Homo sapiens: one gene and its partners. The protein of the gene in region 1 purifies or fractionates together with the protein of each later gene. This does not show direct contact. Each region holds a gene or a part of one and is shown in the gene's direction. Other genes may lie near its edges. The genes, in order: MZT2A, DNAJC2 and VIPR2.

Evidence for each region.
Region 2: the proteins of MZT2A (region 1) and DNAJC2 purify together in Homo sapiens (co-immunoprecipitation; one large-scale study listed by IntAct). This does not show direct contact.
Region 3: the proteins of MZT2A (region 1) and VIPR2 purify together in Homo sapiens (co-immunoprecipitation; one large-scale study listed by IntAct). This does not show direct contact.

What each region holds. Positions count from the first base shown.
Region 1 is NC_000002.12:131,486,294-131,489,410, reverse strand, and holds part of MZT2A (mitotic-spindle organizing protein 2A), read left to right. Parts: intron 1-3,117. UniProt on the Homo sapiens protein: Required for the recruitment and the assembly of the gamma-tubulin ring complex (gTuRC) at the centrosome.
Region 2 is NC_000007.14:103,338,164-103,341,811, reverse strand, and holds part of DNAJC2 (dnaJ homolog subfamily C member 2), read left to right. Parts: coding exon 1-48; intron 49-3,648. UniProt on the Homo sapiens protein: Acts both as a chaperone in the cytosol and as a chromatin regulator in the nucleus.
Region 3 is NC_000007.14:159,141,985-159,146,159, reverse strand, and holds the start of VIPR2 (vasoactive intestinal polypeptide receptor 2 isoform 1 precursor), read left to right. Parts: upstream 1-1,292; 5' UTR 1,293-1,388; coding exon 1,389-1,439; intron 1,440-3,614; coding exon 3,615-3,714; intron 3,715-4,175. UniProt on the Homo sapiens protein: G protein-coupled receptor activated by the neuropeptides vasoactive intestinal peptide (VIP) and pituitary adenylate cyclase-activating polypeptide (ADCYAP1/PACAP).

The sequences.
Region 1 (3,117 bases):
CCTGGGTGACAGAGCGAGACTCCATCTCAAAAAAAAAAAAAACTAGCCAGGTGGGCGTGGTGGTGGCGCCCATCTGTATTCCCAGCTACTTGGGAGGCTGAGGTGGGAGGATTGCCTGAGCCTGAGGGGGATGTTGCAGTGAGCCAAGAGCTTGTGACTGGACTCCAGCCTGGGCAACAGAGCAAGACCCTGTCTCAAAAAAAAAAAAAGAAAAGAAAGGAAAAGAAAAACCACTAGCAATGGAGTTGGGAGGAGGCTTCAGAGCCCAGAGAGCAGCAAGGGTTACACAGGGTGGAGCAGGAAGGGTCAGCAGAGCCCCACACGTGTGAGCTGGGGCAGTGGGAGGGCATGGGAGAGGCAGAGCGCTGTCCAGGTGCTGGTAGGCCCAGGGCAGGAGGAGGCAGGTGGGGGGGCACAGTCAAGATGTATGTGGGGGTTGTGGCACTGGAAATGCAGGCATAGAGGGGCCAGGAGGATTAGGGGGTGCCATGTGAGCGAATGGGGGCTCCAAGAGAATTTACCCGAGGACAGGAGTGGCCTGGAGTGCTGGGCCCCTCAGGGTCATTTGTTTCTCGAGGGCTGTGTCCTGGAAGCATAGCCCAGGTCCTGTAGGCTGGGTGGCAGAAAGCCACGACATGAGGGCACCGAGGCCCCATGGGGATAGAGTGGAACCTGAGGAGGAGGTGGAGGGGAATGGGGCAGACGTGTGCTGCTGAGTGAGAGGCAGAGGCCACAGATGGAATGCTGAGAGCTCTCTGAGGCCCACATATTACAGCTTCTGACCACACAGAGCTCCAGCTGCCCTGGTAATGGCAGAATCTGGGGTGGAGGATTCTGTCACCCCATATGGCAGGGGGGTTGTCGGAGTAATCCGGGGGGAGGGGCATGGAGGCCATAGGTTTCCCACAGGACTCGGGTGTTGAGTTCTCCAGGCTATGGGCCAGGCCCTCTCGAGCTTGCCTCTGTGAGCTGCAGCAGGCACCCTGGGTCCTCTGGATGCCTGTCCCCCAGCCATGCAGACGGCCTGTGGGAACAACCACCACCAGATTCACTCATACCCACAGGGAAGGGGAAATAGAAAACCCCAGAAGCACAGAGGGTCGATGCTTGTCTTGGTGAGAGTCTGGAGTCATTGAGGGAAAAATAAATTCAGTCAAGCGTTATATTTAAGTTTAGGGAAACTATACGTTTTAAAAGTTGTCCAGAGCATGCGTGTAAGATGACGTTTGGAGTGTGGAAGCCGTGAGTCTCACCTGAGCTGTGCTGCCTGATACAGGAACTTCGAGCCACACATGGCTGGCGTGGTCATTGCACTGCGTGTGGTATGCGCAGCAGATGCCAAAGGACCGGTACAAAAGGGAATGCAAAAAACCCACCACACCTTGGGAGGCCGAGGCTGCTGGATCTCTTGAGCTCAGCAGTTCAGGACTAGCCAGGGCAACACAGGGAGACCCAATCTCTACAAAACATACAAAAATTAGCAGGGCATGGTGGCACACATCTGTAGTTCCAACTACTTGGGAGGCTGAGGTTGGAGGATTGCTTGAGCCTGGGAGGTTGAGGTTGCAGTGAGCTGTGACTGCACCACTGCACTCCAGCCTGGGTGAGAGAGTGAGACCCTGTCTCAAAAATAAACAAAAAACCCCAAAGTGAATGAGGCTGGGCATTGGTTCACACCTGTAATCCCAACATTTTTGGAGGCTGAGGCAGGAGCATCACTTGAAGCTCGGAGTTTGAGACCAGCCTGGGCAACATAGCAAGACCCCACCCATTTCTACAAAGAAACAAGAAAAAGAACAAAGGTGAATGCAACATCTTATGAATAATTTATGTACTGACTACATATTGAAATAATACGTTGGATATTTTAGATTAATTAAAGTATTTGAGCTAATTGTGCATTTTCTTTTACTTTTTATTTATTTATTTATTTTTGAGACAGTCTTGCTCTGTCACCCAGGCTGGAGTGCAGTGGCACACTCATAGCTCACTGCAGCCTCAACCTCGTGGGCTCAGGCAATCCTCCCACCTCCTCTTGAGTAGCTGGGACTACAGGTGCACACTACCACACCTGGCTAATTTTTAAATTTTTTGTGGAGATGGAGGTCTCACTATGTTGTCCCAGCTGGTCTCTAGCTCCTGGCCTCAAAGGATCCTCCCACCTTGGCCTCCCAAAGCACTGGAATTACAGGCACGAGCCACTGACCCCTGCTGAGCCAGGCTGTTTTTAACATTCAGTGGTCATTGACTGTTTTTGGCGTTTAGGAGGGCCCTCCAGGGACCAGGTGTAGGGGCATCAGTCACCCTGCCCTCACACCCCAACCTGCAGCCACACTTGGTTCAATCCCACTGTCTAGCCCGTCTGACTCAGTAGCCCCTCCCGAGGGAGCAGGGCTAAGCAAAGCTGGTTTCCCCACTGCAAGGCACTGCAGGCCATTCTATTCTGGGCCTTCTCATCCTTCATAAAGTGAGGAGGCCTGAACAGGGCTCCCCACTAGCCCCGAGAGCACGCAATTCCTGAAGATTTCCAGGATTTTCTTAATATCAGTTATGGCTTACGGTTATGTTGGTTTCACATTTCCAGGGTTTGTCAACCCTGTCAGATTTAAAGATAAGCATTATTAGCCAGGTGTGGCCCCATGCTTGTAGTCCCAGCTACATCGAGGCTGAGGCAGGAAGATCCCTCGAGGCCATGGGTTCCGGGCAGCAATGAACTGTGATTGCATCACTGTGCTCTAGACCAGGTGACAGAGCAAGACTCAGTCTCTAAACCCCCCTCCCCCACCACTCTTAAAAAAAAAAAAAGCATTATTTGCTCTTTTCTGCTTCGCTGTCATCCTTGTTTCCAGAAGGGACTGGGTCACTACTGAGGGGAGGAGAGGAAGCTCAGATGGCGGCAAACTGAAGGGAAGCCGACTCTGAGTCAGGCCTAGGTGCACGGCCTGCCATGCTGCGTGCTGTGGGGAGCTGAGAGCGCATGGGCACCTAAGCACCCAGATTAGGCTGCGGCTACAGAAGATCTGACTGTCTGGCCTGGCCTGCAGAGGGACTGTGGCCTCAGAGGAGGATGCTGGCCCAGTGTGGGAGCTGCTGCAGGGTGGTGGGTCCCGTCTGCTC
Region 2 (3,648 bases), on another chromosome or scaffold:
TTGGAAGAGTTTCCCATGCTGAAAACACTTGATCCCAAAGACTGGAAGGTATTTAATATCTGAATATTTTGTTCAGTCAGATGCTTTGTTAGACATAGACAATTTTCTTATGAGTTTTCCATTAATAAACATGTTTTAAGATGATTCAGCAAGATAACTATGATTTAGCATCTGTTTATTACTAAGTCTTGAGAGCATTAGCACTAGCCATGAGATACTGTCTCTGCTGGAGAAATCCAGGAAGAGTTCACAGAAAAGATAATGTTTGCACCGGTCTTAAAAGGACAGGCAGCAATTAGTGAAGCAGAGAAGTGAGAAAAGTATTCTGGGCAGAAGGAGTAAGATATACAAAGACACAAAGGAGTAAAAGAATATGTAGTGCCTCTTGAGGAATTGATAAGTCGTATAGGGTACATGCGGTATGGTGATGAGAAATCTAGTGTCTTTAAAAGGACACTAGACCAAACTCTGTTGTGTCCTTTTTATACCATGCTAAAGAAGGAATTAAAATTTATTTTTGGGACAGTAAGATACCATCAAAAGTTTCTTAGCTAATTTTAGAAAAGTAATTCCCTTGGCAGTACAGGAAATTGCTTGAAAGGGGGCAAGGGACTGGAGGGGAAGTGAATAGTTTACTGTTATAGGGCTAGTGCACTAAGGCAGACCTGTGACTGAATCCTTGAACTTACTATGTGGCTGGGTTTTGAGGAAGAGGGGTCAGATTTGCCTTTTTTGGAGGTAGCATTAACAGGCTTTGGTGACCCTGGCTGTGTGGCACAAGACAAAGAGAAGTATTCAGAGGTCCTTCCCAGCATTAGCGCTTGAGTGACCTGCTAGAGTGTGTGGTCAGTAACCAATGCTGGGATGAGGATAAGAATGTTTGTGGGAGGTGCTGTTTGTGTCCAAGTTTGACTATGTGAAGACTGAGGTTTTGGTACCATAGTGGTGAAGCTGTCTAGTAGATGGTTAGAAATTGGTCTATGACTCCAAAAAGAGGTTACAGCCAAAGACTTTTTGAAGTCATTGGCACATAGTGGTGGTTGCTGTGAGGAATTGAATGACAACAGCAAGGGACAAAAGTATAAACAAATAGATAATGCTTTAGTAGGTACTTGTATAATAGTTAAATGCGTATGCTGTGGAATTGGAGTGCCTGAATTCAAATCTGGTTCTGCCATTTGGTGCACTTCGACCTTGGGAAAGTTCCCAGATATGTGTGTACCTCATTTCCCTTGTTGCTACAGTGAGATTGTTAACAGCTCAAAGGTTTACCTTGAGGATTAATAAAAGGATGCTTATAAAGCACTTAAGTTAGTACTTGCTGCATGATAAATGCCAAACAAATAATGGATAATAAGAGTTCCTATGTCATTGGTTGTTTAGAGGACTAAATAAGCTAAAGCATATGTATAAAACATTTAGAAAAGTAAGCACTCAGAAAGTGTTAGCTGATTCTCCCACCACCTCATCCATTTTAAAAGAAAAAGACAACATTGGGGAGCATGGATATTTAAGGGGTAGGAAGAGGAGGAAAAACAGCAGAAGATACTAAGAAGGGTGACAGAAGTAGAAAGAAAACAAAGAAAAAGACACTTTGTTATTTGAAGAAATACTTCCTAAACATCAGGCAGCGTATTCTTCCAGAAACTAAGGGAGGAGCAAGAGGGAAAAAGAGGCAGGGTGCAGTGGCTCATGCCTGTAATCCCAGCACTTTGGGAGGCTGAGGCGGGCAGATCACCCGAGGTCAGGAGTTCGAGACCAGCCTGACCAACATGGTGAAACCCCATCTCTACTAAAAATACAAAATTAGCCAGGCGTGGTGGCACATGCCTGTAATCGCAGCTACTTGGGAGGCTGAGGCAGGAGAATCACTTCAACTCAGGAGGTGGAGGTTGCTGTGAGCCGAGATCATACAATTGCACTCCAGCCTGGGCAACAAGAGCAAAACTCTATCTCAAAAAAAGGGGCGTGGGAAGAGTCACCTGTGTCACTGCTTCAGAAAGAGGTCAATCACATAACATGAAAAATTATTTTAAAAAACACTGGACCGGGCATGGTGGCACATGCTTATAATCCCAGCTACTCAGGAGGCTGAAACAGGAGAATCGCTTGAACCTGGGAGGTGGAGATTGCGGTAAGCTGAGATCGTGCCACTGCACTCCAGCCTGGGCAACAAGAGTGAAACTCCATCTCAAAAAAAAAAAAAACCATTGGATTTGGCAAACTAAAAGTTTCGGTGTCCTCATTGAAAGCAGTTTGAGTAAAATGATCGGGAAGGCAAGAGATTACAGTGAATGAAGAGTGATTAGGAAGTGATGAAGTAGGATCAAAGTGTAAAGTACTCTTTCAAAGCTGGGTAGTAAAGAAAATGAGAGAAGATAGTAACTTCAGGAGAAGGCAGAGTCGGGAAAAGACAGAACTGGGGAGTGTTGAGATCTATAAGAGGGAGAAGGTCTTTGGTATAGAAAGAAGTAGATTGTATCAGAGTAAGGTAGCAGAGTTCATTCACTTGTTCAGTTTATTTTCATTCATCAAATATGGATCAAACACCATGTCAGATACTGTTCTAGGTGTCAAGGATACTGTACTGAACAAGACAGTATTACTGCTTACACACAGCTTATATTCCAGTGACATAATAAGTAAACAAGAACATGTAGCCATAAGTTCCATAGGATGGCCATAAGCTATCAACAGGTGCTAAGAGAAAAAAGGGGTCTTTGGTCAAGTAAGTTTGGAAAATGCTAGGTTTTACAGGTTTCTGTTTGTTTATTTTTTAAATCTAATTACAGGACTTCTCAGAGCCTTTCTTAGGCCTTTGTGCATACAAATCATCAAGGAGGCTGTATAATAGTCCACATTTACCTCTTTTTTAAATTTATTTTTTATTTTATTTTATTTTGAGACGGAGTCTCACTCTGTTGCCCAGGCTGGAGTGCAGTGGCGCAGTCTTGGCCCACTGCAACCTCCGCCTCCCAGGTTCAAGCAATTATCTTGCCTCAGCCTCCCGAGTAGCTGGGATTACAGGTGGGCGCCACCACGCCCGGCTAATTTTTGTATTTTTAGTAGAGACAGGGTTTCACCATGTTAGCCAGGCTGGTCTCAAACTCCTGACCTCATGATCCACCCACCTCAGCCTCCCAAAGCACTGGGATTACAGGCGTAAGCTGGCATGCCCAGCCTGTCTCTTCTTTTTTTTAAAGACAGGGTCTTGGCCGGGTGCAGTGGCTCACACCTGTAATCCCTTGGCCCTTTGGGAGGCCAAGGCAGGTATATCACCTGAGGTCAGGAGTTCGAGACCAGCCTGACCAACAAGGTGAAACCCTGTCTCTACTAAAAATACACAAATTAGCCAGGCGTGGTGGTGTGCACCTGTAATCCCAGCAACTTGGAAGGCTGAGGCAGGAGAATTGCTTGAACCCGGGAGGCGGAGGTTGCAGTGAGCCAAGATGGCACCACTGCACTCCAGCCTGGGCAACAGAGCAAGACTCCGTCTCAAAAAAATAAAATAAAATCTTAAAATCATTAAAAAAAAAAAAAAAAAGACAGGGTCTTGCTCTGTCGCCTATCCTGGAGTGCAGTGGCATGATCACAGCTCACTGCAGCCTCTACTTACTAGACTCAAGTAATCCTGCTACTTCTGCCTCC
Region 3 (4,175 bases), on another chromosome or scaffold:
GACAGATTACAGATAGATGATCGATAGGAAGATGATAGATGATAGGTACATGACAGATCGATAGATGATACGTAGATGATGGATAGGTAGATGATAGATAATGTGGATGATAAACATCAGATGATAGAAAAATCGATATCTGTGAATACGGGGGGTGGGGGATCAGAGAGAAGCAAATGATAAGCCCAATGAGGTAAATGTTAATGACCGAATCCACAAAAAGGATAAAAAGGAGTTATTTGTAATATTCTTATTCTTCTAATTTTTGTGTAAGTTTGAAATTATTTCCAAATAAAAAATTAAAACAACACGAACTTAACTTGTATCTCTCATTCCAGTGCTTTCCACTTGCTGGGGAACGCCGAGCTCTCCTGGGTTGGTCACGCGGGCGCCTTGGGAGGCCGCGCAGTCCCGCGTGGGGCGCGGCGGGGCGGCCCCAGTGGCACCGCGTGAGTCCCCGCCCAGCGTTCCCCACCCGCCGCCGCGTTTGCGGGGAGAGAATGACCCCCGTTTTGCAAACGCAGGACACAAAACCCGCCACCCAGCTGAGGCTGGGACCCACCTATACCCCCGTCTGCGTTTTTCTCCAGCTTTCTGTTCGACCTGATGTCCTCTTTGAGGCTGCGGGGATCCCCACCAAAAAGCACTCTGATTTTCTCCATTTTCAGATGCCCCAACCTAGCCCCACTGGCTACAAAGACGGCGCGCCCACCCCGGACGGGTCTCTGGCCGCTTTCTTGGGCTTCCGCAGTTGTTTAGAAAGGCAGGTACAGGCGGCCGCAAAGGCATCCGCCCCTTCCGAGCGCACACCTGGCCCGGTCCTCCTCTCCCGGCCCCGCGCCGGCCGCTCTCCCCCAGTTCTCTCTACTCGGAGCCGGGCGCGCACTGAGCACCCCGCTTCCCAGCCCCTCCGCCCACAGATCGGGGAGGCGCGGCCGGGAGGGGGGCGTGGGCCAGGGAAGAGGGGAGGAGAACGGAGAGAGAGGCTGGGGGGGTCGAGGAGACCAGAGGGAGCGCGCGCGGCGGGGACAGAGAGCCCAGGGGCGAGGAGAGGGCGCGGGGCGCAGCGGAAGGGGAAGTGGGGGGCGGTGAGGAGGGGCGCGGAGCGGGGGTTCTCGGGGGAGGAGGGAGACGAGGATTGGGGCAGCGCGGGGCGGGGACAGGGGCGGGGGGCGGAGCGGCGGGGCGCGTGGGGGACGGGCGTGCATTGAGCGCGCTCCAGCTGCCGGGACGGAGGGGGCGGCCCCCGCGCTCGGGCGCTCGGCTACAGCTGCGGGGCCCGAGGTCTCCGCGCACTCGCTCCCGGCCCATGCTGGAGGCGGCGGAACCGCGGGGACCTAGGACGGAGGCGGCGGGCGCTGGGCGGCCCCCGGCACGCTGAGCTCGGGATGCGGACGCTGCTGCCTCCCGCGCTGCTGACCTGCTGGCTGCTCGCCCCCGTGAGTGCGCCCGCGACCCCCGCCCCACGGCGCCTCGGACCCGGTTCTCCCCTTCCGAGAAGAGCGCTCCTCCCGCCGGTCTTCGCCTTCCTCCCGGGTGCTGGAGCGCGGGCGGGGTCCGGGAGAGGGAGCGGGGTCGCCCGGGGTCCGGAGCTTCCTCCCGGAGAGCGTGAAGCGCTGAGCTCCGGTCCCGCCGGGTTGCGGGACTCGGGTTGGGAGGCTGCCTGCGCCCTTCCCCGCGCCCCACCGTCCGGGGTTTGCTGGAAACGGGATCGTTTCTTCCTGGACGCGTCAACGATGAGCTCGTTCGGGGCCGTCCCGGGAGCTGGGAGCTGCGGGCGCCTGCGCGGGCTGCGCGTTTCACGGGGAGATCGGGGTTGGCGTTGGCCGCAGATGCCTCTCGGTCCCTCCCTGTACTTACTGGTTAGTTTTAGTGTCGGGGGGACGTGGCGTCGGTTAAATAAAGTTTCCTTTTGGAAATAGTTGCTTTTTCCCAAGGGCACTGGAGGAACTAACTGCTCATAAGTTTGTTGATTAAGTGCCTTCGCACATGGAGTTCTGAATTATTCCCTCTGTGAACCTTAAAAAAAAAGGAAAGAAAAAAGAAAGAAAAAAACCCGAGCCTTGTTTCTTGCTTTCCTCTTGGAGACTGAAGCGGGTTTGCGGTGCGCGCGGTTTTCGTGCGCGTCGCAGCCGAGGCAGGTCTGGATCGATCCGCGGCCCCTCCGCAGCTGGGAGGCTGCGCTGCTGACCCGACAGTGTCATTGATTAACCGGCGACGCCCGGTCTGCAGCGGGGCTCGAGCCACACTCCCTGGCCTTGCGCGGAGGCGCAGCTCGGCTTTCCTCCCTCGAGGGTGGGCGCTTTGCGGAGCGGGTCCTTGGAAAGTAACGGGTTTTATCACGGTTAATGCTGCTTTCATTGCTAAAATGTCCTAAAAGAAGTCATTGCTGTGCATATTCCAGGAACGTCAGGTATTATTAATGTCTTTTACACTTTAACAAAGTTTTTCTTTTTACATCAATATAATTTCCTTAATTCTGAAATTTAAGCCACTTACTTGTCCTGCATGAAAACAGAGGACTTGGAGCCCAAAGTCAGTGCCTGGTGCTGGTTCAGTCACGAGCAAGAAGCAAGCTCGGGGCTCTTTTAAATGGGGCTGAAGGTGGCAGAAGTTCCAGCATTGTTTTCCCCTTAATTCTGTTAGGATATTGTGTTCCTGGTTGGAACTCTCATTGACCATTTCAATAGTAAGATAACTAAACATAGATGGCCATAGTACGCCCAACAGTATGATTCTCTTTAGTTACTACTTTAGTACAAGTAGAATTTTGGTCGGTGGTGGGGGAGGGGGAAGATCAAGACCAAAAGGATGGGTGGGGGGAGCCCTCCTTAAGCCCCCAAGGGCCGCTTGGCAGGCCTGTGCTGACTTCGCGGAGGGCGTGAAGAACAAGGTAGAAACGGTGCCTTCTGAGAGGAAGCATTGTGTAGTTCTGCCTTCTTCTCACATTAGTAGACTGTTAATTACTATCTTTGTGGCACCTTTCGCTCCCCTGATGGATCCTGACTGGAAATCGCCCCCTCTTCTCTGTGGGGCCACAATGGTGTGATTCCCCCACCTCTGCCTCCCTCCTCATCTTGCTGATTTCTTTGAATATCTCTTCCACCCCAAATTCTAGTCAAAACGATTGCAGTTTTATCTGTAGTTAGAGGGTTAAGCTTTGAACATGTACCAACACCTTTAAAAATAAAGCCCTTCTATCACGGCTCTTTCCCGGGTGGAGGCCGTCCTCGGAGGAAGCGGCACAGTCCACAGGCATCCGCTTAAACCAAACCAAAGGGTGTGAAACGGAGGAGCCGGGTATGGAGAGATGAATGGAGTAAAGAGCTCTGTTGCCTCCAAATTAGTACCGATGTATTCTGTTAGTAAGTTCATTTTCCTGCTCAGAAAAAAAATTCTATTAGATTTTGTGTTTGTTTTATAATACCTTTACAAAGTAAATAGTGAAGTTTTTAAAAAATGCCAGAAAAATCAAGGTGATTGGTTTTAAATGCATTTTGGTTTGGAAGCAGTTTAAAGCTGTGAGGTTTGGGGTTGTTTTTGTAGAATTTTTGCTTGCTTTTCTTCTTCTTGTGGAATTTTTAGTTATTAATATTTCTTTTAACCGTGAACAGGTGAACAGCATTCACCCAGAATGCCGATTTCATCTGGAAATACAGGAGGAAGAAACAAAATGTGCAGAGCTTCTGAGGTCTCAAACAGAAAAACACAAAGGTAAGGCAGAGGCTTGGTGAGTAAGAACTCCCGTGACATTCTCACCCGGGAATGCGCCTCACTCAGCTGTGGTTCAGGGTCACCACCTGCATCTTAAAAAAAAAAAAAGAAAAAGAAAGGCCACTTCCCATTGTTTGTTAATGAACTACTGGTAAAACTCAGAGAGAGTTGGATAGGTAGGGTCTTCACACACACCTTTAAAAAGATAACCTTAATCCTTAGCAGTAACAGTTTCCATGGTTTGAGATGATAGCAACAGTTACTAAAACAATTTCATGGGCTTTGTTATGCTTTGCAAAAGCAGCTTCAGTTTTCCAGGGGATAAGCATTTATCTGAATTCTTGCATTTTAAATTCTTAGCTATAGGACAGATGATTTTGATCTGGTTAAGGATGGTGGGTACTTGGCAGAAAGCAAACAGGAAAATGGGACTTTGGTTGTGCTGAAGACGGGCCTGCGGT